3 separate regions of the Homo sapiens genome follow, and regions 2 and 3 are each linked to region 1. Evidence: fine-mapped expression QTL. A gene starts in region 1. Each other region holds a variant in brackets. All regions are shown on one strand. Distances are between the middles of the regions. Region 1 holds the start of ZNF529-AS1 (ZNF529 antisense RNA 1). Region 2 overlaps ZNF382 (zinc finger protein 382). Region 3 overlaps ZNF529 (zinc finger protein 529).

What was found. PIP is the estimated chance that this variant, and not a neighbour inherited with it, causes the effect. A credible set is the group of variants that fine-mapping cannot tell apart.
Region 2: its variant is the best candidate, but not a certain one, in a credible set for the expression of ZNF529-AS1 in blood mononuclear cells (TOPMed, PIP 0.62).
Region 3: its variant is the best candidate, but not a certain one, in a credible set for the expression of ZNF529-AS1 in subcutaneous fat (GTEx, PIP 0.65).

The regions. Positions count from the first base shown.
Region 1 is chr19:36,569,681-36,577,869 of GRCh38, reverse strand. It overlaps ZNF529-AS1 (ZNF529 antisense RNA 1), which reads right to left and starts at 4,521. Exons shown (of 5, transcript NR_173348.1): 1 at 4,315-4,521; 2 at 2,970-3,049; 3 at 633-729. ZNF529 (zinc finger protein 529) reads left to right here and starts at 4,578. Exons shown (of 5, transcript NM_020951.5): 1 at 4,578-4,730; 2 at 5,478-5,537. The coding sequence starts at 5,524. RefSeq lists an enhancer at 4,432-4,521.
Region 2 is chr19:36,630,398-36,638,586 of GRCh38, reverse strand. It overlaps ZNF382 (zinc finger protein 382), which reads right to left. Exons shown (of 5, transcript NM_032825.5): 5 at 4,473-8,189. It overlaps ZNF461 (zinc finger protein 461), which reads left to right. Exons shown (of 6, transcript NM_153257.5): 6 at 1-1,969. Among named protein-coding and RNA genes, the nearest start is that of ZNF382, 29 kb to the right of the region's middle. The variant C/T (reference allele first, on the strand shown) is at 3,420.
Region 3 is chr19:36,541,961-36,550,149 of GRCh38, reverse strand. ZNF529 (zinc finger protein 529) reads left to right here. Exons shown (of 5, transcript NM_020951.5): 5 at 1,828-6,537. The coding sequence ends at 3,284. Among named protein-coding and RNA genes, the nearest start is that of ZNF260, 18 kb to the right of the region's middle. The variant G/A (reference allele first, on the strand shown) is at 4,707.

The DNA.
Region 1 (8,189 bases):
CTCTATTCCTAGGCTCCTGTCACTACGGACCTGTTTCTCTTGTCCTCTCTCTTCTCCAGTGCTTTCCTGAACATAAAGAGTAGAGTTCAGCTGAGTGTGGTGACTCATGCCTGTAATCCTAGTACTTTGTGAGGCCAAGGCAGGAGGATCACTTGAGCCCAGGAGTTTGAGACAAACTGAGCAACACAGTGAGACCCTGTCTCTACAGAAAATTTAAAAAAAAATAGCTGCATGTGGTTGCATGTGCCTCTAGTCCCAGCTACTCAGGAGGCTGAGTGGGAGGATCACTTGGGCCCAGGAGTTTGAGACTGCGGTGAGCCATGACAATGCCACTGCATTCCAGCCTGGGTGACTCTGTCTCAAAAAAAAAAAAAAGAGAGTACAATCTTCTGTCTTATCTTTCAATCAGATTACTCCCATTCCTCTGGTGACCACTAGAATAGAGCTGTATAAATGGGACAAGGCCCCCTGGGATATGACTAGAAGGGAAACAGTGGTGCAACATGACCCAGAAGGTGAAGGGAGAACAATGTAACATGGGAGGACCTCCCTCTTCCCATATACTGTTAATAATAATGTGATCTACCTATTCTACTTCGATAGAAAGTAGGGCCGGGCACGGTGGTTCACACCTGTAATCCTAGCACTTTGGGAGGTCAAGGAGGGCCGGTTGCTTGAGCTCAGGAGTTCCAGACCAGCCCAGTCAATGTGGCGAAACCTTGTCTCCACCTAAAATACAAAATACAAAAATTAGCCAGGTATAGTAGTGGGTGCCTGTGGTCCCAGCTACTCAGGAGACTGAAATGGGAGAGTCACTTGAGCCTAAGAGGTCGAGGCTGCAGTGAGCCAAGATTGTGCCACTGCCCCCCAGCCTGGGTGACAAAGACCCTGTCTCAAAAAAAAAAAAAAAAGAAAAAAGAAAAAGTAGAATCACTCACTAGTAAACTGAGATATGTGGACATGATGAGGCTTTCCCTTGTATGGGCTCTCCTGAGTACTCACTACATAGACATCAAATCACTATCTGTATAAAAAAGGTTTATGAAAGGAACATATGCTTATTTAATTCAAGGGAATATGTTTCTGTTTATAGGAGTGAAAAGGAGTGCTGAGTGATATAGCCAATTATTATTATTATTATTATTATTATTTTGAGACGGAGTCTTGCTTTGTAGCCCAGGATGGAGTACAATGGCACGATCTTGGCTCACTGCAAACGCCGCTTCCTGGGTTCAAGCAATTCTCCTGCCTCAGCCTCCCGAGTAGCTGGGACTACAGGTGCGGGCCACTACGCCTGGATAATTTTTGTATTTTTAGTAGAGACAGGGTTTCACTATGTTGGCCAGGCTGGTCTTGAACTCCTGACCTCGTGATCCACCTGCCTCAGCCTCCCAAAGTGTTGGGATTACAGGCGTGAGCCACCGCGCCCGGCCAAAATATCCAATTATTAAGTGAACAGTAGTTACAATTAGAAGGGAAACTTGGAGAAGGCAACATCGTTATCTGACTAGAATAAAAGAAAATGGAGAATCCTGTCTCATGGAAGTTTCATGGTAGGCAAATGCTCAGTTATCCTGGGGGAAAGATATTTCAGAAAGGAGAGAAGAAACATTCATTCTCAGCCATAGCTTTTATAATTTGCAGGAAAGGACCCTTGCTCTTTTGGATTCTTTTTTTCAAAAGGTGAACAACAGAGAGAAGGGAGGCAAAAGAAGTCACGTGAGGCCGGGTGCAGTGGCTCACGCCTGTAATCCCAGCACTTTGGGAGGCGGAGGTGGGTGGATCAAGAGGTCAGCAGTTGGAGACCAGCCTGGCCAACATGGTGAAACCCCATCTCTACTAAAAATACAAAAATTAGCCGGGTGTGGTGGCGGGTGCCTGTAATCCCAGCTACTTGGGAGGTTGAGGCAGGATAACTGCTTGAACCCGGGAGGCAGAGGTCGCAGGGAGCCAAGACGACGCCATTGCACTCCCACCTGGGTGACAGAGCGAGACTCCATCTCAAAACAAACAAACAAAACAAAACAAAAAAAAAACACATGTGAAACCTCTTAGAGTTTCTATAATAACGTGGTTAAACCTGCCTGGTTAACTAATAAGCATTTACTATTAAATCCTAATCATTATGCGAGATAGTACCTATTTAGTAATACCGGTTGGGGAAGTAGAGAAGAAAGTAATTACACTGTAGGCTCTAGACAGTTGAAAGAAATTTTTCTTTTAAATGAAGTTTGAAATTTGATTTTTACAGTAAATATTTTAATTAGAAAATGACTATTTTAATTACTACAAAGCTGACTTTGTGATTTTTAGTATTTCAAGTACTTTTACTTGGCTTAAAGTGATTTAGGAGGGCATTAAATCACCCTCAACTTCATCCAGGGGCAAGCAGGAGGCGGGGGGATGGGTGGGAGGGGACCTCAAATCTATATAACTATTCAAAGTGGTAGGGATGAAAGTATTTTACTTCTGTGCTACATATGGAGTCCTCATTTCAACATATTGGATTTAGTTTGTATGATGTTTCCAGGTAATGCAACCCTGTCATCTAGAAATTATAATTTTACCTCCTAGTTTCCAATGCTTGTGATATTTTAGTTATTAGAAACTGTCATAATTCTGCAAGCAAAATGAAATACACCAGACACACAGAGTTCTTCAGTCATTAACATCACTTACATAGTGATCCATTTTCAGTTATCATGGAATGTACACACAAAACCATGATAAATAACAATTAGCACAGACACATTCAGTTTCCTGTGATCTTACCTACTCCACAAAGCCACAATCCTATGGATCCTACATGACATTCACAACCCTGTTGAGCCCATCTTATAATTCCATACAAACATAGCAAAGCAAACTCAGAAACTACTTACTCCAGTTACACAATCTCACACACACAAATCACAACTAATCATTCTAAAAGGCTTATCAGCTTCTTGGAAAGTTAAATGTAAACTTACCAATTACCCAGCAACTTTTCTTCTAAATATTTGCCCAGGAGAAATGGAAACGTGCCAGCTTTATTCGTAATGTATAAAACCTGTAAATATGCCAAATGTTCAACAACAGAAAAATGACTACACAAATTGTGGTATATTTGCACAATGGAGTGCTGTTCAGAAAAAGAAAAATGAACTACACATGAAATCTCACACACATTAGGGTAAACTAAAGGAGAAATATGGAATTCCGGAACTGACAGTTACAGTGACACAAATCAGAACTATGGCTGTCTCTGCTTTGAAACTGACTGGAAAGGACACCAGCAAACTCCGGTGGTGCTGGTGTTGTAAACCAAAAATAAAATCCTAAGCACACCCAGACCATCTTGAATGGACCCCTCCTCTTGGCCAGGGCATTCCTAACCTGAAAAACTAGTAAAGCCATGATGGAAAGGCGGGGGTGGGCGGGTCGGACATGCTTCATTATACCCTCCTCCATTTTGGAATTACTGATAGAAAAGACCCCAAGTCTGAAAAGAAACATTTACAATCTATTCTCTGTGAAGCGTGCTACCTGGAGACATTCCTAAGTCTTACGTCAATAACTCTTTCAACCCATTGCCAATCAAATAATCTTTGAATCTACCTATGACCTGGAAGGCCAGCCACCTTCCAGCTGTCCCGCCTTTCCGGAGGGAATCAATGTACATTTTACATGTATTTGATTGGTGTCTCATGTTTCCCTAAAAGGTATAAAACCACATATATCCCGTCCACCCTGGGCACAGGTTCTCAAGATCTCCTGAGGGCTGGGCCACCGGCCATTGGTCACTCATATTTAGCTCAGAATAAGTCTCTTCAAATACTTTAGAGTCTGAGTCTTTTCGTCAACAGTGTAAAACACGCCCTAAGGCAGACACACACACACTGAACCGCCGCTACCTGCCAGATTCCATCTGGGGCCTTTCTCATGGTGCAAAACGGACAAAAACTCCAAGTCACCCTCAGGTTTACGACCACGGGTCACATCCTGAGGCCCCCACACTTAGAAGCCAGAGTGGAGCAAAACCTCGCCCGACTCAGGCTCCGAGTTCTCCCCTCGACCCTCCCCAGCCTAAAGGCTGTACCCGCTTCAGGCCTTCCCAGCCCGGCCCTCCAGTTCCTTCTTCGGCCTCCCTCAGCCTGGGGTCCGGGTTTCCTCCTCGGCTGAGCAGCCGGGTCCGCGACTCCCTTCACCCTCCCCGGCCCGGGCTTCCGGTTCTTTCCAGAGGTGAGGCAGGGGCCACCTAGAATTCCGCGGCCCCCCACCTCCCCCAAGACCACCCTCGCCCCAGCTTCCTGTTCCCCATTCTGTCCTCCCAACCTGGGTTCCCGATTACTGCCTCGACTTCACCTTGCCGTCAGGGACCACCAGCCGCCTCTTCCGCGCCTAGGGGACGCGCAGCGGCAGCCTCTGCTGATGGCAAGGGTCTGCGCACCCGGAAACTCCAGGGTCTGGGGCGTGGTGCGGCCCCTGCGGCCAGCGGGCTCCGCTTGAGCTTCAGGGCTCTTTCGTTGTTGGACTACGTTTCCCACAGGCCTCAGGGCCGCGGATGAACTTCGACCTTTGCTTCCTTTTCCGGTGTTGTGGTTATTGAGTTAAGCCTGGCGAGTCGAGGTGACCCGGGCCGGGCTGCGGGAGGAGCTCGCGGTGAGGTGGCCCCGCGCTGCCGGGCGAGGTCGGTCCACGTGGAGCCGGGAGCCTGAGGCCTCTGTACGCGGGAGCTGCGGACGATGGTGGTTAGTGCTATTGTTTACGACGTCATTGTGGTGTGTGTGTGTGAGAGACGGAGACCCTAGTGTGTGCCGTGGGTGCTGTTTGATCGGACTCAGGACGGTGAGTAGGGGCGGGGTCTATCGTGTGACCCTGGTCTACGGTGACGTGATCGTGTGACAGCACTGTTGTGACCAACTATAAGTGTGAACGGGGTAGAAGTGTTTTTTTGTTTTTTTTTGTTTGTTTGTTTGTTCGTTTTTTTCCGTGAGCCTGTAGGAGTTTGTTTTGGGTAAAGCGTCATTTTTCCGACTCTGTGATGTCTGTGATGGAATCTCTTCGTGAGGTCTTATACACACACACACACGCATATAGATAGATTACATAGATGATATATAGAAGATAGATAAATGATAGATAATAGATAGATAGATAGATAGATAGATAAGATAGATAAATGAAGTTTCCTGGGAAGACGTGAAGGGGAGGGCATAGGTGTAGTATTCATTCCTGGGATAACTCCCCTTGCATGAGTTTGGAGGCCATTTATACATTAAAGAACTACAGTATTTCCTGAGCTGTGTTCCCTAGAAACTGCTAGGCATTGGTCGTACCTTTTTCTCGGATGTGGGGAGGAGTCGACAGTATTCTAGTTTCCCTCTTCGATCTGGGTGTGTTTGTTGTGTGTGATGGGCTTTTCTGGTGGTGAACACTGTGTTCTTATTTAACCAGTCCAGGATGTCATGAGTCCTTTCTCCCTCTTGGTTATGTAGTTCTGCAAGTGAAGGCCCCCTGAAGTGGAAGACAGCATTGGTACTAATGGCCAACTCAAGGTTAGTTTTTTTTTTTGTTCATTTACCTGGTCCCTTGGTTTTCTCTTCCCAATTAACAACAGGACCGTAGAGATGGGTCCCCTTGTCCTCCATTGCCTTTCCAAATGCCCATTTCCCTTTCATTGAATATTCACATATGCATTAGGTAAATCATTCAATTCTCCCATGTGCTTCTTTTTTTCCAAAGGATTTTTATGGTATAGAAATACAACTCCTGGAGGAGAAGTTAAAACTTTTTTTTAGAATGTAATTTGTTAAGGAGGAGACGAGTGATTAAGTAGAATGGCACACTAGATACCTTTGATCTTATTTACAGACTTGATTTGCAAACAAAGCAAGATAGGAGATGGTAGGTATTAATCAGTAAGTGACAAAGTTGGCTTTGGAGACATTTAGGAGTGGGAATATGATAGGAGTTTTATGCAGAGAGGCTATGTCAACAAGGGCAGGGAGTTTTTCCAGAACATTCATGAGGGGATTTAAGTGGTGACAACCAAATCTTCTTTGAGATTTGGCAGTGTGACATTGGTGTAGATTGTGAGAGGCAGCCTGATACAGTGGTGTCTGAGTCTAAAGCAGCACAGTCTAATGCAAATATAATATAAAGCCACTTAGGTAATTTAAAAATTTCCATTAGACACTTTTTTTTTTTTTTTTGAGACAGAGTTTCACTGTTATTGCCCAGGCTGGAGCGCAATGGTGCGATCTCAGTTCACTGCAACCTCTGCCTCCCAGGTTCAAGTGAGTCTCCTGCCTCAGCCTCCCAAGTAGCTGGGATTACAGGCGCCCGCCACCATGCCCGGCTAATTTTTGAATTTTTAGTAGAGAAGGGGTTTCATCATGTTGGCTGGGCTGGTATCGAACTCCTGACCTCAGGTGATCCACCCACCTCATCCTCCCAAAGTGCTGGGATTACAGGCGTGAGCCACTGCGCCCGGCTTTAAACACATTTTAAAAAGAAAAAGAAACAGCTGAAGTTAATTTTGGTAATGTATTTTATTTAAACCAATATATCCAAAATATTATTTCAACATGTAATGATATGAATACACTGAAATACTTTACACTCATATCTTTATACCAAGTTTTCAAAATCTGGTATATGTTTTATTGTTATTGCATGTCTCAATTTGGATGCTAAATTTTCAGTGTTTAGGGTGAATTATAGTCCTACCAAAACAATAAAGTTGTGTTTAATAGAAAAACATTTATATTGCTTTTGTATTTAAATGTAAGTTAATTAAAATTAAAGGTAATCCTGTGTTAATTAGCTTAGGAAAAGTGAAAAAAATTTAAAATTCAGTTATATGTTCACACTGCATTTCAAAGGGGTTAATAGTTACTCATTTTTCCGCTTTACAGTTTCTTGTTGTAGAATGTAAACAATAATTATATCAGTGCTTTAGGGTCTTTATGAGGCCTGGATACATTAATATGGACATAAACCTAGAGAATTTAATAAAGGCCTGGCACTTTAAGTCCTTATCTGCAAGGGAAGAAAAAAAGCTGGTTTGTGAAGATTCTTAGTATTCCCCATACATTTTCTGTAAATCAAGAGCAATGAAAATATAAAGTTAATTTTGATGGGCACTTGAAATGAATTTTTTAAAAGCCAGATTTGCAAATGTTCTATTAAGGCAATTTGACTGTCTTAGGTTCAATGATTTGCGAGAAGGACTCACAGAACTCAGAAAAGCTGTTATGCTCATAGTTATTCTTCATTACAATGAAAAGGTACACATTAAAATCAGCAAAGGGAAAAGTTGCATAGGGCAAATACCGGGAGAAACCAGGTGCAAGCTTCCAGTGCAGTTGCACAGGCAGCACCTAATTCTCCCAGCAACAATGTGCGAATACAAACATGAAGCGTGGCCAACCAGGGAAGCTCTCCTAAGCCATGGTTTCCAGGGTTTTTTGTTTTGCTTTGTTTTCTTTTTTCTTTTTTCTTTTCTTTTTTTTTTTTTTTTTTTTTGAGATAGGGTCTTGCTCTCTCACCCAGGCTGAAATGCAGTGGTGGGGTCACAGCTCAATGCAGCCTCTACTTCCCAGCCTCAAGGGATCCTCCCACCTCAGTCTCCCAAGTAGCTAGGACTACAGGCACACACCACAACACCCGGCTAATTTTTGTATTATTTGTATAGATGGGGTTTTGCCATGTTGCCCAAGCTGATCTTGAACTCCTGGGCTTAAGTGATCCACCTGCCTCTGCCTCCCAAAGTGTTGGAATTACAGGTGTGAGCTACTGCCCTGGCCCATGTCCGGGGTTTTTATTGACGATCAGTCATGTGGGCATGAAGGTTCTGTGCACTGACCTTACCTACTTAGTCAAGCCTACCCAGAAGTCAGATGGATACAGGTATTTACCATAAACCACATTGTTAACAAAAGCCATCTGGCATGGCTAAGACCTCAGATATACATAGACTCTGTTAATCAGGCAGGATACTCTAACTGCTCAGAGATTATCTCCCAGGAGCTGGTCAAGGACAATTTCTTCTTTGGAATGTGCAGGGTTTGAGCACTCTGAGCCAATTCTTCATTTTTTTCTTTTTCTTTTTGTTTTGCAACAAGAGTCTTGCCCTGTCACCCAGGCTGGAGTGCAGTTGTGTGATCTTGACTCACTGCAACCTCTGTGCCTCCCAGGCTCAAGCA
Region 2 (8,189 bases), 61 kb before region 1:
TCATTAGTATTTATTTATTTAAATAATCCTTGAAAATCAAATGTTTTTAAGTGAGAAAGTGGATAACTAAAGTGTAAATTTTGGTCTCATTTTAATGCTGTTTCTGAGTTATTGTATTAACCATTATTGAGAATAAATTTTTTTATTGAGAATAAATTTTCTAAAATTACATGTTTCACTGAAACCAGTGAAATATTTCACTGAAACAGTGAAATAAAATGAAAACAATTTCCTCCCTTCCCTCAAATCTCTGAGATAACCAGTATGTGTATTTCTTCTTCCTTTATGCTCAAACAACCTGTACACAGAAAGCATTTTTTGCATGTGTTTGGAGGAGCTTTTACCCCCATACAGACATTTGACAGCGTCTTGTCCTTTTCATAATAATCATGAATACTTTTCCAGGTCAGTACGTAAAGATGTAACCCATTCTTTGTAAGGTTCAGAATATTTCTAGAATGGAATGTATGTCCGTATTTTGGGCCATTACCTACTACAGACATTGAAGTTGTTTCTAATGTTCACCTAGAACTCTAATTTTACCTTCTTTTGTTTCTATTGTGCAGATTCCCAACAGTGGGATTAAAGAGTATCTGGCGTATATATTTTGACATTACATTTATTTTTTAAAATCTTCTAAATTTTTTGTTTAATAAAAGCACACATTATAAAAATTCAAAAATTACCAAAAATGTGAAAATTAATTCTCCCCTAACATCCAGTTCTGTAGCCACTCACTTTCCACAGATGCAACAACTGCTATCAGTTTCCTTTTATTCTAACGGGAATATTTCATGTAAATTTCATAAATTCTTTGGACAAAAGTAGGTTATTCATAATATGTGATTTATTACACATTCTCATTATTAGTCCACATTTGGCCTACTTCATTTTTTTTTTTTTTGAGACACACCCAGGCTGGAGTCCAGTGGTGCAATCTTGGCTCACTGCAACCTCCGCCACCCAGGTTAAAAATTCTCCTGCCTCAGCCTCCTGAGTAGCTGGGACTACAGGCATGCGCAGCCACTATGCCCGGCCAATAAGCTATATTTATTCTTATTTGATGTGGATGAAAATTATCAAAATTGGCCAGGCTTGGTGGCTCATGCCTGTAATCCCAGCACTTTGGGAGGCCGAGGCGGGCGGATCACGAGGTCAGGAGATCGAGACCATCCTGGCTAACATGGTGAAACCCCGTCTCTACTAAAAAAAAAATACAAAAATTAGCTGGGCGTGGTGGTGGGTGCCTGTAGTCCCAGCTACTCGGGAGGCTGAGGCAGAAGAATGGCGTGAACCTGGGAGATGGATCTTGCAGTAAGCTGAGATCGCGCCACTGCACTCCAGCGTGGGCAACACAGTGAGACTCTGTCTCAAAAAGAAAAAAAAAAAAGAAAATTGTCAAAACACAACCAATAGATAATGTTAACATGCATTCTAACATGCAATTTATTGGATTTAGCGAATAGAATGTGAGTGGAAGTTACTTTTGGTAGAACTGTTGGGAAAAGGGCTTGTGGAGTGCCTGCATAAACTGGCCATAAAAATATGGGACAATAAGTTGTGGAAAGCCACAAGAGGCCTCTGAGGAGGAAAGCCTCCTAATTGCCATCACGTTCCTATGACCAGAGTGTGACCTGCTCTCTTATCTATAAACACTGTGCTCAAGGAGAAAGACACTCCTTTGAAGCATTGGAATGTGGCCAGATATGCTGGCTTCTAGTTAGGCCCACTCCCCACAGCTGCTCTCTGATAAGTAAAAGAATAAATCAGTAGTTAAGTTTATGCTGCTTCAGCACAAAGAAAATGTACCTAAACTGCCATTGCCCCCCTTTCACTGTTTCACCCCTGAACATCTGCTTCTTAGATCTAAGTGATTGTACTCAATAAATAGTGTGGAGACCAGAGCTTGGCGCCTTTGCAGCTTTTGATTTGCTCTGGCCCCTTGGCTCCCACCTTTATGAACTCTTAACCTGTCTCTTCTCATTCCTTTGTCGCCACCGGACTTCAGGTACCCTACAGGTGGTGTTGAGGCTGGTCCCCAACAGAACTTTACATGTGCTTTCATATTATGACTTGGCTTTTGCCACTGGCCATGAGAAGGACATGCCACATGTAGCCATTTGCTCATCCATGAAAACCTTCCAAGAATAGTGGCAGTGCTTCACTTCCACCTTCTAAATCTCATGCAAATTTCACCAACATGGTGAAACTCCGTCTCTACTAAAAATACAAAAATTATCCAGGTGTGGTGGCAGGCCCCTATAATCCCAGCTACTCAGGAGGCTGACGCAGGAAAATCACTTGAACCCAGAGGGCGGAGGTTGCAGTGAGCCGAGATCGCGCCATTTCACTCCAGCCTGGGTGAAAGGGCGAAACTCTGTCTCAAAAAGTAAGGCCGGGTGTGGTGGCCCATGCCTGTAATCCCAGCACTTTGGGAGGCCGGGGCAGGTGGATCACCTGAGGTCAGGAGTTGGAGACCAGCCTGGCCAACATAGTGAAACCCCTCTCTACTAAAAATACAAAAATTGGCCTGGCGTCGTGGCACGCACCTGTAATCCCAGCTACTCAGGAGGCTGAGGCAGGAGAATCGCTTGAACCCAGGAGGCAGAGGTTGCAGTGAGCCGAGATCACGCCATTGCACTCCAGCCTGGGCAACAGAGCGAGACTTTGTCTCAAAAAAATGAATAAAAATAAAAAAATGACCACTATCAAAAAGACAAACAATAAGAGATCTTGGTGAGGGCAGAGAGAGGGGAACACTTTAGTACACTGCTGGTGGGAATGTAAATTAGTATAACCACTATAGAAAAAATTATAGAGTTTCCTCAAGAAACTAAACATAGATCAACCAAATAATCCAGAAATCTCACTACTGGGTACATATCCAAAAGGAAGGAAATCAGTATATCTAAGAGGTATCTGCACACCCAAGTTTACTGCAGCACTATTAACAACAGCCAAAATATGGAATCAACCTAAGTCTCCATCAATGCATAATGGATTTATACACAATGGAATACTATTCAGCCATAAACAGAATGAAATCCTACCATTTGCAGCAACATGGGTGGAAGTGGAGGTTAATTATGTTAAGGGAAATAAGCGAGGAACAGAAAGACAAACTTGGCATGTTCTCATGCATAAGTGGGAGCTAAAAGAGTTGATCTCATGGAGGTCAGAGTAGAATGATGGTTACCAGAGGTTCGGAAGTGAGTGGCTAGTGGTGAAGAGAGGTTGGTTAATGGATATAAAAATATGCTTAGATAGGGCCGAGTGCGGTGGCTTATGCCTGTAATCCCAGCACTTTGGGAGGCCGAGGTGGGTGGATCACGACGAGGTCAAGAGTCGAGACCATCCTGGCCAACATGGTGAAATCCCATCTCTACCAAAAATACAAAAATAAGCTGGGCGTGGTGGCT[C/T]ACGCCTGTAGTCCCAGCTACTCAGGAGGCTGAAGCAGGAGAATTGCTTAAACCCAGGAAGCAAATGTTGCCGTGAGCCAAGATCGCACCACTGCACTCCAGTCTGACAACAGAGCGAGACTGTCTCAAAAAAATATATATATGGTTAGATAGAAGGAATAAGTTCTAGTGTTTGATAGGATAGTAGGATGACTATAGTTAATAATTTATTGTATATTTCAAAATAGGTAGAATATTTGAAATGTTTCTAACACAAGGAAATGATAAATGTTTGAGGTGGATATCCTAATTACCCTGATTTATTACATATTGTATGCATGTATCAAAATATCACACATATCCCATAAATATGTACAATCATTATGCAGCAATAAAAACATACACTGTAATCCCAGCACTTTGGCAGGCTGAGGCGTGGGATCACTTGAGGTCAGGAGTTCAAGACCAGCCTGGCCAACATGGTGAAACCCCATTTCTACTAAAAATACAAAAATTAGCCGGGTATGGTGGTACATGCCTGTAATCCCAGCTACTTGGGAGGCTGAGGCTGACGAATTGGTTGAACCTGGGAGGCGGAGGCTGCAGTGAGCCGAGATTGTGCCACTGCACATATACAATCAGGGACCTTTAAATGGCACTGTGTTGGAATTAAGAATACCACTGAGAACCAAGGGATAGCAGAATTGGCCCCACTTAGTATTATTCCCAATGATTGCATATGCCCTGATGACTATGTATTGGCTGGTTTGTCAGCCACTGTTAGATGTGATGGAGACGCCCAACAGAGCACACACACTGAGTTCCATCTTCCATAGGTGTGCCACCCCCAGACATGAAGCCTGCCACTCCAATGGGGGGCTGATCATCTGGATGGAGTTTACAAATACGGGCTAACTGTAATGTGTTACTTGTGTTGTGAGTTGACCTGCGGAACAATGATGAGACCATGTGGCAAGGCCTGTGTGTGTGTAGGCTGACTACTACTGGATATGTAATTCAGAAGCCAGTCTAAAGATATCTTTGAAGACACAAATCAGGAGGTACTGCTGCTGATGAAGCAGAGCTAGGGATTTTTATTTATTTAAAAAAATTACAGACAGTACAATTCACTTTTTTGTATGTATACTTCTATTTTTTACACATGCATAGATTTTTTATCTATGACCACAAGCAGGATACAAAACAATTCCAACACCTCAAAGAATTGCCTCGTGCAACCCCTCTGTATTCAGACCCCACCCCACCCCAGACACTCAGCAACATTTGATCTGTTTTCTGTTGTTATATTTTCACCTTTTCCAGCATGTCATATAAATGGAATCATACAGTATGTAACTTTTTGGGACTGGGTTCTTTCCTTTAGCGTAATGCATTTGAGGTTCATCTATGTAGCTGCATGTTTCAGTAGCTCATTATTGTTATCGTTGAGTAGAATTCCATCTTGGGAATGTACCACAGTGTATCCATTTACACACTGAAGAACATTTGCTTGTCTCTAGTTTTTTTTTTAATTATAAATAATACTTACAAACACTCATGTACAGGTTTCTGTGTGCACATAATTTTTCATTTCTCTAGGATAAGTACTTATAAGTGGGATTGCTGGGTCATATTGGATGTGTAACTTTTTGAGACTGGCATATTGTTTTCCAGACCGGCTTTACCATTTTGCCTTTCCTATTAGCAATGTATGAAAGTTCCAGTAACAAATCCACACCTGTACTCCTGAATCTAAAACAAAAGTTAAAAAAGAAAGAGTTCCAGTTGTTCCACATTCTTGTCAGCACTTGGTATTGTCACATATCTAGGGTTTTGAAAAGTCCGATTATAGGCCGGGTGCGGTGGCTCACGCCTGTAATCCCAGCACTTTGGGAGGTCGAGGTGGGCGGATCATGAGGTCAGGAGATCGACACCACCCTGGCTAACACAGTAAAACCCCGTCTCTACTAAAAATACAAAAAATTAGCTGGGCATGGTGGCAGGTGCCTGTAGTCCCAGCTACTCAGGAGGCTGAGGCAGGACAATGGTGTGAACCCAGGAGGCGGAGCTTACAGTGAGCCAAGATCGAGCCACTGCCTCCAGCCTGGGCGACAGAGCGAGACACTGTCTCAAAAAAAAAAAAAAAGCCTGATTATAAACTGATAAATATCTAGAACATCCCAGGTGCATGTTGTAGACTAGTGTTGGAGCCTGTGCTTTTGCTGTTGCACATTACTTGTGAAGCAGGACATGGCAAGCCTGGCTCTATTGCTAGACCAGAAACTGAGTGGAGAAATTCAAGCATTAGCTGACAAGAAATGATCACATTTGAGATGTACTGTGCACTATCTGATACTGGGGACACAGAGGGTGAGGAGATATGCTTGTTCACATACATTATCAGGAAATACACAGCAGTTATAGGAACCATGTTTATAAGATGGAGCTGATTTACAGTCAGACTGCAAAGCTCTAAAATTATCTCCACGATGCCCAGATGTCTGGCTCTGACTCTTGGTTGGGATAAGGCCAGTGAGCTATACAAGGTACTAGTTAAAGTCTGATATTCCCTGGGAGACTCCCAGAGCCAATTTGTTTATGATGGCTTTTTAACTTTTTTAAACTTACATAACCAGTTAGATAGCCTGGCTTGACTATGTAACCAGTGAACAGAGAAGCATAAATACCCATGCAGTGGCTGGGCACGGTGGCTCATGCCTATAATCCCAGCACTTTGGGAAACCGAGGTGGGCGGAGGATTGCCTGAGGTCAGGACTTCGAGACCAGCCTGGCCAACATGGAGAAACCCTGTCTCTACTAAAAACACAAAAACTAGCTGGTTGTGGTGGCACATGCCTGTAATCCCAGATACTTAGGGAGGCTGTGGCAGGAGACTTGCTTGAACCTGGGAGGCGGAGGTTGCAGTGGGCTGAGATTGCACCATTGCACTCCAGCCTGGGTGACAGAGCAAGACTCTGTCTCAAAAAACAAAACAATGACAACAAAAAAACCCATGTAGAGAAGTTCTGCTGTCAGCTCTCCCCAAATCAAGTTTGATACAGGTCTTAGTGCTTCAGTTCAGAGACAGTGTGCGGTCTGTGTGTGAATAAAACCACTGAGGAATGTGCAGCTAGATGATTCTGAGCCCTAATGCTTACCTTCCCTTTCTTTTGCTGAGCCACATCCTTTGCTTCTAAGTAAAAACATTTCCTGGGTATGCTCTGTGGAGTCCTGTTAGTCCTCTGAACTGATGAACTCATTTTGCATATGCCTTATGACCTTGCAGTTAGGTCTACAAAATATGAATTTGTAAAATCACTCCTATTTTGTCGTATATGTTTAGGTCAAGTTGACTTAGATTCTATAAACATGTTTGCTCCTTAGAGTTGCCCAAACTTCATTGAGCAATATATAAGTTAGATGAAAAATACTCATGCACCACATGACATTTTGGTCCATGATGGACTGCATATATAATGGTGGTCTCATAAGATTATAGTACCAGCCAGGCATGGTGGCTCACACCTGTAATCCCAGCACTTTGAGAGGCCGAGGCGGGTGGATCACGAGGTCAGGAGATTGAGACCATCCTGGCCAACATGGTGAAACCCCGTCTCTACTAAAAATACAAAAATTAGCCGGGTTTGGTGGTGTGCACCTGTAGTCCCAGCTACTCATGAGGCTGAGGCAGGAGAATCACTTGAACCCAGGAGGCGGAGGTTGCAATGAGCCGAGATCACACCACTGCACACCAGCCTGGGCGACAGAGTGAGACTCTGTCTCAAAAAAAAAAAAAGATTATAGTACCACATTTTTACTGTACCTTTTCTGTGTTTAGATAGGTTTACATATACAAATAATTACCATTGTGTTACAATTGCCTATAGTATCCAGCACAGTAACATGCAGTACAGATTTGTAGCCTAGGAGCAACAGGCTCTACCATATAGCCTAGGTGTTTAGTAGGCTGTACCATCTCGGTTTGTATCAGCACTCTGTGATGCTTGCACGATCATGACACTGCCTCATGATGCATTTCTCAGAATGTATCCCTATTAAGTGATGCAATGCTGTATTTATCAATTCATAAAGTGAAAATCTCTAAAGTGAGTGAAGTGGCTCACACCTGTAACCCCAGCATTTTAGGAGGCCGAAGAGGGAAGATTGCTTGAGGCCAGGAGTTCAATACCAGCCTGGGCAACACAACGAGACCCCATATGTATAAAAAATAAAAACATTAGCTGAGAGGAATGGCGCCTGCCTGTAGTCCTAGCTACTTGGGAGGCTGAGGCAGGAGAATTGCTTGAGTCCAGGAATTCAAGTCTGCAGTGAGCTATAATGGCACCACTCTACTCCAGCCTAGGTGACAGACTGAGAACCTGTCTCAAAAAAATAAAAAAAATGCAAAGAAAATTTCTGATTTCTTCAAAAGAAATCTTCAAGCAGGATTCTGGAATACAGCCCAATGCTGTTTCATGCCAAAATATAAACCACAGGACCAAATTTTCCTAAGGAGCGGCAGCTTATATGTAAATAGCTTTAGAAAACACAATTTCGGCTGGGTGCGGTGGCTCACACCTGTAATCTCAGCACTTTGGGAGGCTGAGGCGGGTGGATCGCCTGAGGTCAGGCTTTGGAGACCAGCCTGGCCAACATGATGAAACCCCGTCTCTACTAAAAATACAGGTGGGCGCCTGTAATCCCAGCTACTTGGGAGGCTGAGGCAGGAGAATTGCTTGAGGTAGAGGTTGCAATGAGCCGAAATTGCGCCATTGCACTCCAGCCTGGGAA
Region 3 (8,189 bases), 28 kb after region 1:
TCTTATACATAATTAAGTCACAGAAAATTATTCTTGCCCTTTATCATGCAGTGTTTATGTGTTGCTCTGAGTTTTCCTCAGGCATTCCCTTCTCTCACTGTTGGCCTCCAGATGATCTCCATAAAATCCTTTGCTACAAAGTGCCTTCCAATCTTGTCTACCTAGACCACCTTCTTCATATGATTCTGTTAGCATATTCTCCTTTTCACACATAAGCCCTTGCTCAGAACTGTGTAAGTCTAACAGTAGTTATAATTATATTCAGATATTATTTTAATATCTGAAATATATTTTTGGAAAGTACAGCATTAGTTGACTTTTGCTATAAGAAAATGGAAAGGAATATCTGTAAAAGAAGATAAAAGAAAAAATAGAGGAAGGTTTTAGGAGGACGGCGGAGTAAATGTAAATATGCTGTTGAAGAGAAGTAAATAACACATCCCGATTGTATTTCTTCATTCCACATGTCAATCATGGCTCTGCATAAGAGGGAATAAGCAATAGTGGTGGACAATATGTGTAGGTGGAGAAGCAGTTGGAAAATAAATACATATGAATGTTCGCCATATTTATGTATCTTACTGTATTATAAATATACATATGTAATCACTAATACAATGTGAGGGTTGGGAGGCATTGGTAACTGGCATTATTCTTATAGTTACATAATTATTTTGATAATTATTGTTTTCTAGTGACTTATCTTTGTATATATACTTTTATTTTTATTTAGATTCATTCATACAGTGATTTACTTTTCCTCTAATTAATTATCATATACTATGTCCTTAGGTCTTGTTATACATTGGCACATGAAAATTTATTACATTTGTCCTTGTGGAATTTAAGGAATAAGGAAGTAAATGGTGTAAGAGAAAAGTATTGAATACACAACTGAAAAAAATATATATGAGGGTAAGGCACTAGATATGGGATTAGAAACAGAAATGAAGTTATTTAGGGTCAACTAATATGCCCTTTCTGAGGGTATCTTGAGACTTTAACAAAGAAAAGAAGCTGGCATACAAAGAGACCATTGATGTGAAATGAAATGTCCTGTGGATAGCTCTAAATGATAGGAAATTTGTTTTGATCTAGGAGATGAAAAATGATTAGGAGAATGCGTTAAAATGAGGTGGTTTTTTTTGAGACGGACTCTCGCTCTGCTGCCCAGGCTAGAGTGCAGTGGTGCAATCTCAGCTCCCTGCAGCCTCCACCTCCTGGGTTCAAGCAATTCTTGTGCCTCAGCCTCCCAAGTAGCTGGGACTACAGGCGCATGCCATCACGCCCAGCTGTTTGTATTTTAGTAGAGGCAGGGTTTCACTGGTCACAAAGTTCTGAGCTCAGGTAACCCACCCACCTTGCCCTCCCAGAGTGCTAGGATTACAGGCATGAGCCAACACGCCCAGGCAAAATGAGGTCTTAACAAACTGCACCTTGTTATTATCCTCGGTAAAATTTATTTTTGGGGAGGAAAACCACAAAAGTGTTAGTATATATGGATTATCAAATTTTGATCTGCGTTAGCATTACCTCTACAAGATGCTAATGACTAGTTCTACATCTACAGATTTTGATTCTGTTTAACCAATGAGCTTACCAGGTGATGACCAACACACAAATTTCAGATCCACTGACTTAATCTGTTACCTTTATCACAATCCTCATAATCTTTATGTTCTGCTGTTACTCTGTGAGCTCTCTTTATCTTTCATGACAGTATTTTAACCAATTCATGTATATGGTGAATTATTCTTAAATTGTCTCTTCTTTCTATAACTGTTTTATTTTTGTAGTACATGAAAATTATTTTTTCCTTTCTTTCAGATTTGGAGTCCAGGAATGAGACTAAGCATTTATCTGTAGGAAAAGATATTATTCAAAACACTGGTTCTCAGTGGGAGGTAATGGAAAGTAGCAAGTTATGTGGCCTTGAAGGTTCCATTTTCAGAAATGACTGGCAAAGCAAAAGCAAGATTGACTTACAAGGACCTGAAGTGGGATATTTCAGTCAAATGAAAATCATCTCTGAAAATGTGCCCAGTTACAAAACTCATGAATCTCTTACTTTACCTCGGAGAACTCATGACAGTGAGAAGCCCTATGAATACAAGGAATATGAGAAGGTCTTCAGTTGTGACTTAGAGTTTGATGAATATCAGAAAATACATACTGGTGGAAAAAACTATGAATGTAATCAATGTTGGAAAACCTTTGGGATAGATAACTCCAGTATGTTACAACTGAATATTCATACTGGTGTGAAACCTTGTAAATATATGGAATATGGGAATACATGTAGTTTTTATAAAGACTTTAATGTATACCAGAAAATTCATAATGAGAAGTTCTATAAATGTAAGGAATACAGAAGGACCTTTGAAAGAGTTGGAAAAGTTACTCCACTTCAAAGAGTTCATGATGGTGAGAAACACTTTGAATGCTCATTCTGTGGGAAATCCTTTAGAGTGCATGCACAACTTACTCGACATCAGAAAATCCATACTGATGAGAAAACTTACAAATGTATGGAATGTGGCAAGGACTTCAGATTTCATTCACAGCTTACCGAACATCAGAGAATTCATACTGGTGAGAAACCCTACAAATGTATGCACTGTGAGAAGGTTTTTAGAATTAGTTCACAGCTCATTGAACATCAGAGAATTCACACTGGTGAGAAACCTTATGCATGTAAGGAATGTGGGAAGGCTTTTGGAGTATGTAGAGAACTTGCTCGTCATCAGAGAATTCATACTGGTAAGAAACCCTATGAATGCAAAGCATGTGGAAAGGTCTTTAGAAATAGTTCATCCCTGACTAGACATCAGAGGATTCATACTGGTGAAAAACCCTATAAATGTAAAGAATGTGAGAAAGCATTTGGAGTAGGTAGTGAACTTACTCGACATGAAAGAATTCACAGTGGTCAAAAACCTTATGAATGTAAGGAGTGTGGAAAGTTCTTTAGACTTACGTCAGCCCTTATTCAACATCAAAGAATTCATAGTGGTGAGAAACCTTATGAATGTAAGGTATGTGGGAAGGCCTTTAGACATAGTTCAGCCCTTACAGAACATCAGAGAATTCATACTGGAGAAAAACCCTATGAATGCAAGGCATGTGGGAAGGCCTTTAGACATAGTTCATCCTTTACCAAACATCAGCGCATTCATACTGATGATAAACCCTATGAATGTAAGGAGTGTGGGAATTCCTTTAGTGTTGTTGGGCATCTTACTTGCCAACCGAAAATTTACACTGGTGAGAAATCATTTGACTGAAATAAATGTATAAAGTGGTTTTTTATTTCTGATTTTCACAGGAAAATACTGTGGATGGATTTAATAGGTAATCAAGGCAATTCAGTATCTCCCTCTCTTAAAGTCTGTTTTTAGACTTCATGGTCATTCTGTATGTAGACGTAGAATTGCTTAGTCATAGCTGATATATACTTATAGCTTTGTTAGATGTTGCCAAATATTTCTCCTTTTTATGTTAAAAAGTTTTTTTCATGAGTTTCTCATCCTGGCATGTTTTGTTTACAATAGCTTTTGATGTTTGTATTATTGCTCTTTTGACTATTCAGTTTTTTAATTGTAATATTACTTCAATATCTTTTCTGCATTGTAATTCTTTGCTTGTGATATCTATACTTACTTATTTTCCTCCACAGAGTTAGCACTCCTAGTCAGATACAATGTATTTTTACAGTCTTACAGCTCATCATTTTGTGTAATGTTGTTTTGTTTTGTTTTAAATGATAGAAGTGTGATCTCCTTTCCATTTTCATCCAATTGTTGACTTCTCTTTAAATTTCTACTTTATTTTGATACAACATATTCCCCCCAAAAAAACACATACATAGGAACTGGTTATATTCCACCATAACACACACACACACACACACACACTATATACATATAGTGTATATACACATATAGTGTATATAGTGTATGTGTGATGTATACTATACATATCACATATACTATATGTGTGTATATAGTGTGTGATGTATATGTGTGTGATGTATACTATATATGCCCACACATGCACTACATAACACACTATATATATATATATATATACACACACACACACACAATATATGTATATATAGTATATACACTATATACTGGGCACTATATATATATAGTGTGTATGTGTGTTATATTGGAATATAACCAGTTCCTTTAAGCAGTCTTTTTACCTGCAGGCTATACCAACCAGGATCCAAATGAAGAGAACTCTTTTAAATATTTGATAAAACTACTCACCCAGTAAGTCTCTTAAAATTTATCATTCTCTTAAAGTATCACTCTAAAATTTGTCAAACACCTTTAAAAGGGGAGAAAAAATGACCACTGAACTTACATTAAGAGAATTTACAACTATATATTAACATGGCTTCAATTGTTTTTTTAATCTATTATCATTATTTTTCTTTTTATTCCCTCTCAGAGTTGACTTACTAGGTTTGGGCATTTCAACAATCAGCAGACCTTCTTTGGTTTAACTAATCTCATTTAACTCCAAAATCATCTCTCTCTTAGGACTGCTGACTTGGTTATGCAGTCAATGAGATCACGAGCCACTGGTTATTGGATTTTTTTTCTTTTTTTTTAGACAGAGTTTTGCTCTTGTTGCCTAGGCTGGAGTGCAGTGGCGCAGTCTTGGCTCACCTCAACCTCTGCCTCCCAGGTTCA[G/A]GCTATTCTCCTGCTCAGCCTCCTGATTAGCTGGGATTACAGGCATGCGCCACCATGACCGGCTAATTTTATATTTTTAGTAGAGACGGGATATCTCCGTGTTGGTCAGTCTGGTCTCAAACTCCCGACCTCAGGTGATCCACCCGCCTCAGCCTCCCAAAGTGCTGGGATTACAGGCATGAGCCACCGCACCCAGCCTGGTTATTGGATTTATTTATTTATTTTGAGATAGAGCCTTGCTCTGTCACCAGGCCGGAGTGCAGTGGTGTCATCTCAGATCACTGCAACCTCCACCTCCCAGGTTCAAGCGATTCCCCTGCCTCAGCCTGCCAAGTAGCTGGGATTACAGGCATGCGCCACCATGCCCAGCTAATTGTATTTTAGTAGATATGGAGTTTCACCACGTTGGCCAAGACAGTCTCGATTTCCTGACCTTGTGATCCCCCTGCCTCGGCCTCCCAAAGTGCTGGGATTACAGGCATGAGCCACCACGCCTGTCCGGTTATTTGATTTTTATAAGAAAATTTTACTATTATTTTCAGATAAATTTATGTCACTGTCATTCATTACATTTTAATTTTTGAAACTGATGTCTTTCCCAGAATTTATGTACTCTATAACGGTGTGAATGATTACCAGTATTAAGCCATTTTCTCATCTGATATATTGAGCTATGTTTTATGTAAGTATTGCTTATTCAAGTAGTTTTAAAAGATATGTAATTGGTTGTTGTTTCATGTCCTACACAGTAAGAACAAGAGTATGTTAACCTTTTTGTCAGGATATTTGCTATTTCATATCTTTGAAATAGAGTAGTAGCTCTATTTCTAACTAAATTCTATTTATGTAACAACACAGCTAATTTACTCTTGGATCTCATTCTCCCTTTTTATCCTGAGTTACCATCAGTGCTAATGTTCCTCTTTTGGGTATAGTTCTCCAGGAGAACTTGTCCTATATTTCTTTGTGTGTGTTTTTTTCCTTCCAGCTTAAACAAATTAAAACTAAATATCTAAACCTTGTATACAGACATTAAAATTAGTGAGAGAAACAAAATATCCTTGTGTCTTGGCTTTTACTTTTTGAAGTCATTAACAAATAATAAATTAATGAATAAAATGTGTCCTTATTATGTTTTCCTTGTTTGTAGTTACAGCTATATTTTTATCATATTAACATTTTTCACTTAACTTCGTAATGAACTTATGGCATTTCACACTTACTCGAAACCATAATATAATTATTATTGGTGGTATTACTGTTTGGTTTTTACTATTTTTACTCAAAAACATAAAACTTCACCATTCTTTCCATTTTCATTTGCCCCTTTATTCTTTCTGACTTTTCTCTAAGCCTGCATAGGAGCTTTATTCTCATATTCAATAGGATAGGATATTGCAGTCTCATCCTGTTTTCTGCTGTCCTGCACCATTAAATTTTATATGTCCTTGAAGGAATTCAATTTAATGGCAACTAATATATGTATGTTAGGGACAGGTAAAGAGTCTGTGACTGAGATTTCTGGAGTTATATAACCCCTGCGCCACCCCCCACCCCAACTCCAACTTGCCAGAATTCACCCCTTAACCTGCAATGTGATTGTATTTGGACATAGGGCAATGAGGACATAAGAATGTGATTCTAATTTGATACAAATGGTGATCTTATGAGAAGAGGAAGGAGAGACGTCTCTTCCTATGCTCACACACAAAGGAAAGTCCACATGAGGACACAAGGAGAAGCCAAGAGAGCCCTTACCAGGAATTAAACCTGCTAATCCCTATTTTAATTAGAACAGTGAGAAAATAAATATCTGTATTTAAGCCTCACAGTCTATGGCATTTTCTTACAACACCCTAAGCAAACTAAGACAGTTGTTGGTACTGAGAAGTGGGGTGCTGCTATAACAAAAAACTAAAAATGTGCAAGTCCAAGCTTTGGAACTGGGTGGTGGGCAAATAGGCTAGAAGAATGCTGAGGGTAGATGCTAGAAATATGGATGTAAAAATGATTCTGGGGAGGACAAAAAAAAAAAATAGAACCACTGGAGAGAAAGCTTCCATTTTAAAGAATCCTGTCATGAACGGTATTCATGTTAAAGAAACAATCATGAACAAAATGTTGGTAGAAATATGGACATTTAAGGCCATAATGTTTTAGTCTCAGAAATGAGAAACAGGTTATTGTAGCAAGGAACTTGGCTGAATCATGTTCTAGTGTTTTGTGGAAGGTAGCGCTTCCAACCAATGAAAACTGAATAGTAGCGGAGATTTCTAATTATTGAACTTGTGGCTTGGGTTCCCTTTATTGCGCATATAAAACAGGAAAGGAGAGAGATGAATTGAAGGAGGAATTCTTAAGCAATAAGAAACTAAAATGTGAAGATTTGGGAAATTCTTAACCATACTGAGAAAAATGAGGAAATGTGTATTTTGCTGTTTTGGGGTAGAGTGTTGTGTACATGTTAGGTGTTGTTAGTTGATAATCTTCCAGTTTTCTATTTCCTTCTTGATCTTCTGTGTAGATGTTCCATCCATTATTGAATGTGAAGTTTTGAAGACTCCAACTGTTGTAGAACTTTTTTTTTTTGCCTGCAACTTTTTGTAGTGTTTGCTTCACTTCTTTTGGGGCTGTTTGGTGTGTTTGTGTTTATAACTATTATATCTTTTGATGCATTGACCGTTTTATCAATATATAATGTGTCTTTTTTGTCCCTTGTAAAAATTTTTGACTTAAAGTCTATTTTGTTTGATACTAGCATAGCCACCCTACCTCTCTTTTGCTTAACTATTTGCATGGAATCTTTGTCCACTCCTCTCACTTTCAAACTATTTACAGTTTGGGATTTATACTGAGTCTCTTATGGACAGCATATAGTTGGATCATTTTTTTTAATCCATCTGGCAATCTCTGCCTTTTAATTGGAGAGTTTAATCAATATACATTTAAATTAATTGCTTGTAAAGGACTGACTTCTGCCATATTTTAATTTGTTTTGTGTATGTCTCTTTTTGTTTCTTAATTCTCCCAATATTGCCACCTTTTGTGTTTAATGGAATTTTTTCTTTTTTCTTTTTTTTTTTTGAGATGGTGTTCGCTCTTGTTGCCCAGGCTGGAGTGCAATGGCACAACCTCAGCTCGCAGCAACCTCCACCTCCCAGGTTCAAGCAATTCTCCTGCCTCAGCCTCCTGAGTAGCTGGGATTACAGGCATGTGCCACCACGGCCGGCTAATGTTGTATTTTTAGTAGAGACAGGGTTTTTCTGTGTTGGTCAGGCTGGTCTCAAACTCCTGACCTCAAGTGATCCGCCCGCCTCAGCCTCCCAAGGGGCTTACAGGCGGAAGCCACCATGCCTGGCCCGAATTTATTTTACTGTATCATTTTGGTTCCTTTATTTTATTTTCTGTAAATTTTGTATTCATTTTCTCAGTGTTTGCCTTGGAGTTAACACATATTCTACTTTGAATTAATACTATCTTAGC